Homo sapiens: one gene and its partners. The protein of the gene in region 3 purifies or fractionates together with the protein of the main gene of each other region. This does not show direct contact. Each region holds a gene or a part of one and is shown on either strand. Other genes may lie near its edges.

The links.
Region 1: the proteins of NPIPB6 (region 3) and NCS1 purify together in Homo sapiens (affinity purification with mass spectrometry; one large-scale study listed by BioGRID and IntAct). This does not show direct contact.
Region 2: the proteins of NPIPB6 (region 3) and RGPD5 purify together in Homo sapiens (affinity purification with mass spectrometry, with the first as the bait; one large-scale study listed by BioGRID). This does not show direct contact.

Annotation. Positions count from the first base shown.
Region 1 is NC_000009.12:130,220,835-130,224,486, forward strand, and holds part of NCS1 (neuronal calcium sensor 1), read left to right. Parts: intron 1-1,815; coding exon 1,816-1,904; intron 1,905-2,247; coding exon 2,248-2,325; intron 2,326-3,652. UniProt on the Homo sapiens protein: Neuronal calcium sensor, regulator of G protein-coupled receptor phosphorylation in a calcium dependent manner. Directly regulates GRK1 (RHOK), but not GRK2 to GRK5. Can substitute for calmodulin. Stimulates PI4KB kinase activity.
Region 2 is NC_000002.12:109,825,192-109,828,843, reverse strand, and holds part of RGPD5 (RANBP2-like and GRIP domain-containing protein 5/6), read right to left. Parts: intron 2,969-3,652; coding exon 2,810-2,968; intron 2,544-2,809; coding exon 2,406-2,543; intron 2,144-2,405; coding exon 1,997-2,143; intron 1,053-1,996; coding exon 873-1,052; intron 780-872; coding exon 696-779; intron 1-695.
Region 3 is NC_000016.10:28,360,623-28,364,897, reverse strand, and holds the start of NPIPB6 (nuclear pore complex-interacting protein family member B6), read left to right. Parts: upstream 1-1,389; 5' UTR 1,390-1,875; intron 1,876-2,037; 5' UTR 2,038-2,075; coding exon 2,076-2,195; intron 2,196-4,275.

The DNA of each region.
Region 1 (3,652 bases), on a different chromosome or scaffold from region 3:
GTTGACTGTAGCAGGCCACACCATAATTGTGGGAGCAGAGTGGACTGTGGGGAGGAGGTGGGGGCTGGAGTTGGGGGAAGGAGAGGGGTGCTCCTCTGGGTAACATCCCAGGCCCCGGGCTCTCCCACGCACTCAGCTCCAGCCACTGATACCTCGGCCCTGGCAGCCCAATGCCCCATCCCTTTATTTTATTTGTTTATTTATTTATAGACAGAGTCTCGCTCTGTTGCTCAGGCTGGAGTGCAGTGGCACAATCTCGGCCCACTACAATCTCTGCCTCCTGGGTTCAAGCAATTCTCCTGCTTCAGCCTCCCAAGTAGCTGGGATTACAGGCATGTGCCACCACACCTGGCTAATTTTTGTGTTTTTAGTAGAAATGGGGTTTCGCCATGTTGGCCAGGCTGGTCTCGAACTCCTGACCTCAGATGATCCACCCACCTTGGCCTTCCAAAGTGCTGGAATTACAGGTGTGAGCCACCGTGCCTGGCCCTGTTATTTTTAATATATATATATATAAAATATTTAATATATATATAAAATATCATATATATATATATATATATATATATATATATATATAGAGAGAGAGAGAGAGAGAGAGAGAGAGAGAGAGAGAGAAAGAGAGAGTCTTGCTCTGTCACCCAGGCTAGAGTGCAGTAGTTCGATCTCGGCTTATTGCAACCTTCGCCTCCTGGGCTCAAGCCATCCTCTCACCTCCTCCCAAGTAGCTGGAACTACAGGCGCCCGCCACCACACCTGGCTAATTTTTGTATTTTTAGTAGAGAAGGGGTTTCATCCTGTTGGCCAGGCTGTTCTCCAACTCCTGACCTCAGGTGATCTGCCCGCCTCGGCCTCCCAAAGTGCTGGGATTATAGGGGTGAGTCACTGTGCCTGGCCCTGTTATTTTTAATTTATAAATAAATAAATATATATATACACATAAATATAAATTATGTATATATAAATATATATACATAAATATAAATTATGTATATATAAATATATATACATAAATATAAATTATGTATATATAAATATATATACATAATACATAAATATAAATTATGTATATATAAATATATATACATAAATATAAATTATGTATATATAAATATATATACATAAATATAAATTATGTATATAAATATATATACATAAATATAAATTATGTATATAAATATATATACATAAATATAAATTATGTATCTATAAATATATATACATAAATATAAATTATGTATCTATAAATATATATATGTGTGTGTGTATATATATATACGTATATATATATGTGTATATATATATACGTATATATATATGTATATACAGAGAGAGAGAGGGAGAGAGACTTGCTCTGTCACCCAGGCTGGAGTGCAGTGGCTTGATCTCGGCTTATTGCAAACTTCGCCTCCTGGGCTCAAGCCATCCTCCCACCTCAACCTCCCAAGTAGCTGGAACTACAGGCACCGCCACCAGGCCTGGCTAATTTTTGTATTTTTGTAGAGACGGGGTTTTGCCATGTTGTCCAGGCTGGTCTCGAACTCCTGGGCTCAAGCAGTCTGCTCACCTCAGCCTCCCAAAGTCCTGGGATTACAGGTGTGAGCCACCATGCCCAGCCTTATTTTTTTTAACCCTAGTTGCAATGGTGTGTGTGTGTCTGTCCCTGTCTATCCTGATGTAAATATTAGTTGACCTGATGAGGAATGGGCCATCCGGTCGCTGACTTCATGTTGGGGTACAGAGAGGAGGGGCGAGTTGAAGACCCCTCCCCACTGCCCCAGCCCAGGATCACTCAGCAGTGCTGCTTGCTTACAGGGGCCTTCAAGCTCTACGACTTGGACAATGATGGCTACATCACCAGGAATGAGATGCTGGACATTGTGGATGCCATTTACCAGATGGTGGTGAGAAGCCGGGTCTCGTGTGGTTAGGGGTGGCAGGAGGGGCAAAGCCAGTGACTGAGAGACAGAGAGAGAGCACTTGTGCAGCCATGCTCCTGCCCAGGGTGGAAGCAGGGGTCACTGGCTGAGCCGTTCTGTACATCTCTGCCTGGGCAGGCAGGCACAAGCTGGTAGATAGTGGGGCTGGGGTGTGGGATGTTCCAGGGCACAATGGCAGGGATGGGGAGGGGAAAGAAGAGGGGGGCGGCCCTCATCTGGAAACTGCCAGGTCTGGGGGGCAAATGCGTGGCCAAGAGCCCAAAGCCCAGAGTGCCAGGGCCCACCCCCGCCTTGTCCGTCCCTGCAGGGGAATACCGTGGAGCTCCCAGAGGAGGAGAACACTCCTGAGAAGAGGGTGGACCGGATCTTTGCCATGATGGATAAGGTGAGGTGGGGGGGCGGGGCTGGTCCTGGACCAGGGAGGCAAGGTGTCGGGGGCAGGAATTGGAGTCCCTGGATCCTGGGCCTGGCTTTGCTGCCAACCTCCTCCATGGCTCACGGCAGGCGGCACGGTGTCCTATCCCTGCTCAGCAGCTAGCCCCATCCAGTGTCCAGAGTCTTAAGTCAGTTTGCTCAGCATGTTTTCTTTAATCAACCAGAGTCCTTAGCCTTTTTTTTTTGTTTGCCATGGACCCCTTTGGCATTCTGGAGAAGCCTACAGACTTCTCAGCATAATGGCTTTAAGCGCATAAAATAAAATCCATAAGATCAAAAAGGAAGCTGATTATTTTAGAAAACAGCTGTCAGAGTATTTTAAAAAAAGAATCTGTGATGTAGCGTTCTGTGAGCTGCTTTCTTAACGCATTCACTAAGATGTAGTGGTGGGTCCAGCAACCCCCGAAATTGCGAGCTGTAATATCTGCAGCAACTAGGGTGTGTTATGAAAATACCTGTGATCCCTACTGTCGACAGATCACAGGTACTGCAGGTCCTGTTGGGGACCGTCGCCTAGGTTTCCATCAAAGGAAAAGCTACATTTCAGTTAGAGGTTAGTAAAAAAAGGCTGATTTTTTTTCCCCCAAGTTCATAGACCTGCTGACTTCTATCCACAGGCCCAAGGTTAAGAAACCCTTCTCTTTTTTTTTGAGACAGAATCTTCGCCCTGTCACCCAGGCTGGAGTGCAGTGGCGGGCGCGATCTCGGCTCACTGCAAGCTCTGCCGCCTGGGTTCACGCAACTCTCCTGCCTCAGCCTCCCGAGTAGCTGGGACTACAGGCGCATGCCACCATACCTGGCTAATTTTTTGTATTTTTAGTAGAGACGGGATTTCACCGTGTTAGCCAGGATGGTCTCGATCTCCTGACTTCGTGATCCACCAGCCTCGGCCTCCCAAAGTGCTGGGATTATAGGCGTGAGCCACCGTGCCTGGCCAAGAAACCCTTCTTTAAAGGGAACCAAAGCCAGGTGTGGTGGCTCACACCTGTAATCCCAGCATTTTGGGAGGCCGAGGCGGGTGAATCACCTGAGGTCAGGAGTTCGAGACCAGCCTGGCCAACATGGTGAATCCCTTTCTCTACTAAAAAAAAAAAAAAAAAAAAATCCGGGAGGCAGCAGTTGCAGTGAGTGGAGATCGCGCCATTGCACTCCAGCCTGGGCAACAGAGTGAGACGCAGTCTCAAAAAAAAAAAAAAAAATTATCCAGGCATGATGGCACATGCCTGTAATCCCAGCTACTCGGGAGGCTGAGGGAGGAGAATTGCTTGAACCTGGGA
Region 2 (3,652 bases), on a different chromosome or scaffold from region 3:
CAGAAGTTCAAAACCAGCCTGGCCAACATGGTGAAACTCTGTGTCTACTAAAAATACAAAAATTAGCTGGGCCTGGTGGCGGGTGCCTGTAATCCCAGCTACTCGGGAGGCTGAGGCAGGAGAGTCACTTGAACCTGGGAGGTGGAGGTTGCAGTGAGCCAAGATCACACCATTGCACTCCAGACTGGGCAACAGAGTGAGACTCCATCTCAAAACAAAACAAAACAAAATATGGTAAAGGGTCAAGACCGAGGTATGTAGGCTGGGCACAGTGGCTCACACCTGCAATCCCAGCACTTTGGGAGGCTGAAGCAGGAGGATTGTTTGAGCCAGGAGTTCAAGGCCACCCTGGGCAACATGGCAAAATCCCATCTCTACAAAAAATACAACAATTAGCTGGGCCTGGTGGCATGTGACTGTCTGTAGTCCTGGCTTCGTGGCAGGCTGAGCCAAGAGGCTCTCTTGAGCTAGGAGGTTGAAGCCGCAGTAAGCTGTGATCATACCACTGTACTCCAGCCTGCACAACAGAACAAGACCCTTGTCTTAAAAAAAAAAAAAAAAGACCAAAATGTCCCCTTGCCATACTATTTGGATGGCAAGGGGACATTCTGACCAGCTTCAGAAAAAAAGTGAGAGAGTAGCCAGGGAAGGAATCTTGGAATAAAAAGTACAGCTAGAGAAATTAAGTGACTTACCTTAATGGCCTCTACTTGTTGGCAAATCATATTCAGTAAAGAATTCCGATCTTCTGTCCATCGAGGTGGTGTTTCGGGAGAATACTGAAAAAAAAAATAAAAATAACAAAACAGCATTTAAAACACTTAGAACAGAAACAATTTCACAATGAAATGATTCCATTCTTTCCTGTTTACCTTGTAACTTTTACTTGGTGATAGTGAATATTTGGTAGGAGACGGTGTAGAATGTTTTATTTCTGAATCTGCATTTCGCAAAGAACCATTTTTATAGAGAGGACCTCCTTCACTATAGTCTTCGAGTTCCTGCATGACTGAATTAAGCATCTGTTTTACAGACTCCAGGGGCACAGGCAACTAAAAATAAAAGACATTAATTAAGGGCTTTCATTTGCAAAAAATTCCAAAAGTAAAAACTCTAAAATGATATATTTTATCTTATTTACATTTTTGTCACTTTAATAAGCACTTTACACTTTAAATAATAATACACGTGAAAGTGTTTTTTAATTATCTTTTTTCTTTGTTTTTCTGTTGTTTTGTATTATTATTTTTATTTTTTTGTCTTTATTCTATTTTTTTCTTCAGGAACACAGAAAAGTGTTGTACAGTCTAACATCTTCTGATTCTAAAGTCCATGCTCTTTCTATTACTTCTGTTAACCATGATAATTGTAGAGGAATGTTAACTTGGAAAGCTTTTCCAAGTGAACAAAATAAGTTACTGATGTTTTCTAACTGATTTTCAATGGTGACAGAAATACAGATGCTACAATACACCAGACAACATAAATCCTAATAAAAGAGTAGTAACACAAATTAATCAACAAAACACTCAGAAGACTGAACATAATTTAACATCATCATGACAATCTCAAACAGCTGACAGCAAGAAAACAAGGGCGTTCATAATGGCTGATGACGATGAGAAGAAATGCTCTTAAGTTGTCAGCAACAACTTTCAATTTCAGCAAAGTTCATTAAGAATTAGTCCTGAGGTTATAATATTTGTTTTGATTACACTGCTAAGATAACAAAATCAATGTCTTATCTTAGAAATCTTTTCTAATTCCCCAAGAAGTACTTTTTAAGAGCATATACCTAGATTCCCAAGTTTAAAAAGACACACCAAACCTAAGACAAAGCAAGCAAATCTAAGCATTTAGACACACGCATCCCTTCTGTGCATTAATAACAACATATTACTGAGTATTTTTGAAATTACCAAAATATAAGACCAACGCAAAAACACTGACCAGTGGGTTATCAGTAAGAACGTACATACAACAACCTGCTACTTACTTTCTTGACCACTGAAAGATTTGAATCACCGTCATCTATAATCTTTATTAGGTAGTCCCTGGTCTTTGTCAGATAATTTCTGCATTCTTCTTGTTCTTCAGGAGAAAGGGCATCATTTTCAATGTCTTCTGCCTTCCTGTGAAAAATCTATACAAATAGTGCTTTCATGAAATCATTAGCTTTTTAAAACAAAAAACTTTCAGCTTGGCCACGCATGGTGGCTCATGCCTGTAATCCCAGCAACTCGGGAGCTGAGGCACAAGAATCGCTTGAGCCTGGGAAGCAGAGGTTGCAGTGAGCCAAGATTGTGCCACTGCACTCTAGCCTGGCCAACAGAGAAACCCCGTCTTTTAAAAAAAATAATAAATAAATAAATACAACTTTTAGCTCAAGTACTGCATCTACTTACCAGTGCAAGATTCCAATAAGAAACAACACTTTTTATAGATTCAAAAGCAGTCACAGCATCTTCTATATTTCCATTTACTGCATCCAACATAGCAAAAGTTATGTGTGCGTCTTCTTCATATTCAACAATTTCTGATGCCTAAACACATAGAATAGTTTTTAGTCAAATTGTTTATACTCAGAATATAAAACCCAAATGATTTTCCAAAGATTTTATATGATCTTAAGAGACAAACATCTCATTACTCTTCTCTGTCATATCTTATCTGTGAGAGCTAGTGAATTTAGAAAACAAGATTACCGTTAAATAACAAGGCAATTAATTTAAGCAGTTTATAGCTCCACGTCTTTGTTTATAAACTGGAAATTCCCATCTCCAATAAATTCATAAAGGAACTCTGTTACCTGAATGTCTACACTATGAAAATGTTTAAACAGAGGATCAATAGGTTCAGGAATACTGTTCTTCTTTATTATCTTCAACAATGGCAAAACTTTCTTCCAATAATGAACACTTCTCCCTATGTATTCTAGTTGACCATAAAAAGAATTAAGACCGCTGCCCTAAAAAAGAAAGTTAAAAGCACACAACTTTAAGGAACACGCATGATTAGATCTAAAGTTCATTTACAAGTTGTAAGAACTGGCTAAAATTTCAAGTCAAAACCAAATGGTACCTCAATAGTCATTTGTTCAACTTCCAAATACTGTAATAACTAAACCACCTTAATACCAGTGAACTCACTGCAACCTCTGCCGTGCAGGTTCAAGCAATTCTCCTGCCTCAGCTTCCCAAGTAGCTGGGATTACAGGCACCTGCCACCATGTCTGGCTAATTTTGTAGTTTTAGTAGAGTTTTTTTTTGTATTTTTAGCAGAGACGGGGTTTCACCGTGTTAGCCAGGAATGATCTCGACCTCCTGACCTTGTGATCTGCCCGCCTCGGCCTCCTAACGTGCTGGGATTACAGGTGTGAGCCACCGCACCCGGCCTCTACACTCAACTTTTAAATGCTTCTAATGATACCACTCTAACGTAGCAATCCAAACTACTTTTTAACAGTTGTCCTTTTTAGATAGCTGAAACCTGCCTCTTCTGTAGTGTCAGTTTGTTCAAAAGGCTGACCATCTACACCTAATGGTGACACAAAACACACCTTAAATATTTAGAAAGATCTATAATGGTCTTACCTACAAAGCCTTGTGCTAATTTTTTTTTTAATTTTCAGGCTGAATAATTATCAGAACTT
Region 3 (4,275 bases):
CTGGAGGTTGCCGTGGCTCTCGTTGGCGCCCAGCGCCGCGCCCGGGGCTTCATGGCTGTGTCGCTGCTGCCCCCTCCCAGGGCCGCAGGGCCCGGGTTCCACTTGGCGGCGTCTTCTCGCGAGTCGCTTTCGCTGCTCCAAGAAGTCGGCGGTGCAGCAACTGACGCCGCTGCTGCTCCGGTCGCCGCAGGTCGCCATATTCCTCGCGGGGGCCGGCCGGGCTCTCGGCTCAGGCCGCCCACCCTGCTCCGGCCGCCGCCGCCTCTCCGTTCCCGCAGCCAGAGGAGGCGAGGGAGCGACCTCCAGGCACTGGGCGCCCGCCGCTTCCCCAGCAGCCGGCGGGGCGGGGAAGAAAGACGCCAGGAAGCGGAAGGCCCCCGCCGGCCCGAGGGTCGCCCGGGGCTGTGCCCCATGGTTCCTGGCCCGCGAGCAGCTGCTGGGACCCCCCCTTGCCAAGTTGCTCCCCGAAAAGCTCTAAGGTTCTCAGGCCTGCAGGGAGTGACAGTTTCCCCCTGACTGTAACGTAAGGCTGCAAACTCGAAGCCAGGAATTTTCTGCATATTCTTAAATAGGATGTTTCAGTCAAAGCCTTGATAATATAACCAATCTTTCTGATTGTAGCCTGCTTATAAAGAGAACATATGTACATGAAAATAAGAATATTTATGAATAGTTTCCAAACTTTAGAAGGATCAGATAGGGAGGAAAAACAAACGCTTCCACCCACCTTTGTTCACAAAAGTGTGCTTTACCAAATCGGTGTAAATTCTAGATAACTTCTGAGAAAAACCTTTCTTCAATCTAGAAAACAAAACAAGGGCCGGGCGCGGCGGCTCAAGCCTGTAATCCCAGCACTTTGGGAGGCCCAGGCAGGGGGTGATCACCTGAAATCGAGAGTTGGAGACCAGCCTGGCCAACATGGTGAAACCCCGGTCTCTGCTACAAATACAAAAACTAGCTGGGCGTGGTGGCGGGCGCCTGTAATCCCAGCTACTCGGGAGGGTGAGGCAGGAGAATTGCTTGAACTGAGCGGAGATCCTGCCACTGCACTCCAGCCTGGGTGACAGAGTGAGACTCTGTCTCAAAATAAAAATAAAGAATGAATCAACAATGTTTTAAATACCAGTTATAAAAACATTATCGTAATAGATTTTTTTGTTTTGCTTGATCTCGCTTAGCAGTTTTTTGAACCATTTTTTCCTTATTAGAAACCACTAGAAATTGGTTTTTAGTTCATTGATTTTTGTTTATTTTTATTTTTATTTCTGAGACACAGTCTCAGTCTGTCGCCCAGGCTGGAGTGCAGTGGCACAATTTTGGCTCACTGCAACCTCTGCCTCCCAGGTTCAAGCAATTCTCATGCCTCAGCCTCCCGAGTAGCTGGGATTGTGTGCCAAATCATTCACCCCTCACCACAACCGAATGAGCTAAGGATTCTCATTATATATAGTTTATGGAGAGGGAAGTGCAGACATAAAGAGGTGAATTGTCTTACCCAGATCACACAGCTGATAAGTGGTGGAGGCAGAATAGAATCTAAACAGTGTGGCTCCGGAGCCCACATGCATTGATTCGACAAGTGTTTATTGAGCACCTGCCACGGACAAGGCCTTGTGTGATTAAATAGGGTTATAATTAGTAATATAAAAATGAGAAATCACTAATGCTTTTTAGACTTAACATTTTCTTTTTTTGTAGGTTTCAGGCACAGAACTGTATATCCAATAATAGTGAAATGGATCCCACTAATTATGACAGAAATGATGATACATTTAAATGACTTGGATGTTTTATAGGTATGATCTCGTGAAACCTTGAGAGAAACTGAATGACGAATGAAACTATTGTTCCTGTTTCACACAGAAGAAAACTGAGGTTAAAAGGGGTAAAGTAATTTTGCATGGCATGAAGTAGAAATTCAAAGTACAGGAATTTGAACTTGGTTCTGTCCTTTTCTGAAGCCCTTGACCACTATAGACTCAAACATCACCTTGTTTTTCCACTCATTCAACACTATTTTTTTAAATTATCTAATAGGTTGGCACTCATGATGAGCCCCTGTTCTCATTCTGCAAATGGTGAAGCTCTCTATTGTCCTGACCCCACAGTTCCTGTCGCATGACCAGAGCCAGCTCACCAAGGAGCTGCAGCAGCATGTAAAGTCAGTGACATGCCCATGCGAGTACCTGAGGAAGGTGAGTGAGTGCAGACAGATGGGGCCTGGTGCCCTTGAGCAGTTCCCGGGTCTCAGCTGCCACACATCTCATAGCGGGTGATGCTGGGGGAAGCTTACGCAGTCACAGTACTGGCTTCTTCCTCTTTTTCTTTCCATACAAGTGGCTTAGGGATGGGGTAGAGTAGTTGACTTATTTGGATGAAAACCACTATCTTCTGTCAGAAACTCAAAAGGAATCATTGCTGGCATGGTAACCTAAAGAAAAACAACCAGACAAGTGCCCAACAACACTTAAAAAGGTTATTTATTATCTTGCCAAGTTTAGGCTGGGCATGGTGACTCATGCCTGTAATCCCAGCATTTTGGGAGGCTGAGGCTGGTGGATCACCTGAGGCCAGGACTTCAAGACCAGCCTGACCAATATGGCAAAACCTCGTCCCTACTAAAAATACAAAAATTAGCCGGGCATGGTGGTGTGAGCCTGTAGTCCCAGCTACTCAGGAGGCTGAGACAGGAGAATTGCTTAGATTCAGGAGGTGGAGGTTTTAGTGGGCCGAGATCATGCCATTGCACTCCAGACTGTGCGACAGAGCGAGACTCTGTCAAAAAAAAAAAAAAATTATCCTGCAAAATTTGAAAAGGAAATTCAAATCAACAGCTTCTAAACTACTTTTTAACATGACTCATAATAAGAAATACATTCTATAGTACATATATATGTTCTATAATTTTGAATAAAAGAATTAACCACATCACATTTATTTTACAACATGTAATACATATTTTTTATTCTCCTTCATTTGTTTTGAATGCTCTGTGCAGTCTACAAAAAGTCCAATAGTAATAATTAAATTAGTCATTAAGTTGAACATTATCTTGTCTTTTAAAATGATAATCTCAAAAATGATCTTTTATTTTTGAGATTTATATAGATACACACACACACACACATACACACACACACACACACACACACACACACACACACACATATAGAGAGAGAGACAGAGTTTCACTCTGTCGCCCAGGCTGGAGTGCAGTGGCACAACCTTGGCTCACTGCAACCTCTGTCTCCCGGGTTCAAGCAATTCCTCTGCCTCAGCCTCTGAGTAGCTGGGACTACAGGTGTGCACCATCATGCCCAGCTAATTTTTGTATTCTTAGTAGAGATGGGGTTTCACCATATTGGCCAGGCTCGTGTCAACTCCTGACCTCGTAATCTGCCCACCGTGGCCTCCCAAAGTGCTGGGACTATAGGTGTGAGCCACTGCACCCGGTCCAAGATAAAATTATTTTAACAATATACTATGAAGAGAAAAACACTGGCTATGAAAGAATATGCATAGTTTTACCCTGTTTAAAAATAAAGATTGAAAGAATACATATGCAAATAAGTTTACTTTTATTTTTGGTAATACTTTACTGGATTGTCTGAATATTGACAATCAGTATGCATCATGAAGCTACATGGCTAACATTGAGTACTGACTGTGTGTGCCAGGCCCTGGGTTCAATGCTCTACATGCACTTATATTTCATTTAATTCTCTCTGCAACCTGAGATGGTATAGCCACCTCATTTTACAGAGTTGAAACTGAGGCTCAGAGACTGAAAGTTAAGCCTGAGGTTACAGTCAATAAGAGGCAGAGCTGGAACTGAAACCTACGTGTGTCTGACCACCAGTTCCTGTTCTGACGGCAGGCTAGTCTGCATCACAGAGTGTGGGGTAGATGGTGCATGCCTGCTAGGATGGGCTAGGTATCACTGTAGGTAAGAAACAGCCCCAAACGATGGAAATGTACACCACTGAAGGCTCTTTTCCTGCCCATGCTGCACATCCTCCATGGCTCTCCTGTGCCCTGTGCCCCACATGCCCTCATCCTGCCACGAGAATAAAGGAGCAGCCTCCATATGGGAGCTGTCAGCTGCTCTAAGAGATGAAGGAGAGGGTGGCCAGTCTCAATGGCTCCCAACTCTTTTGCCTCGAGGTGACACGCTTCACTTCCACTCACATCTCTTGGGTCAAAGCAAATCCCATGGGTACATCCACTTTCAAGTGGCCCAAGAGAGAACCTGAAATACTTGGTGGACTCCATTAA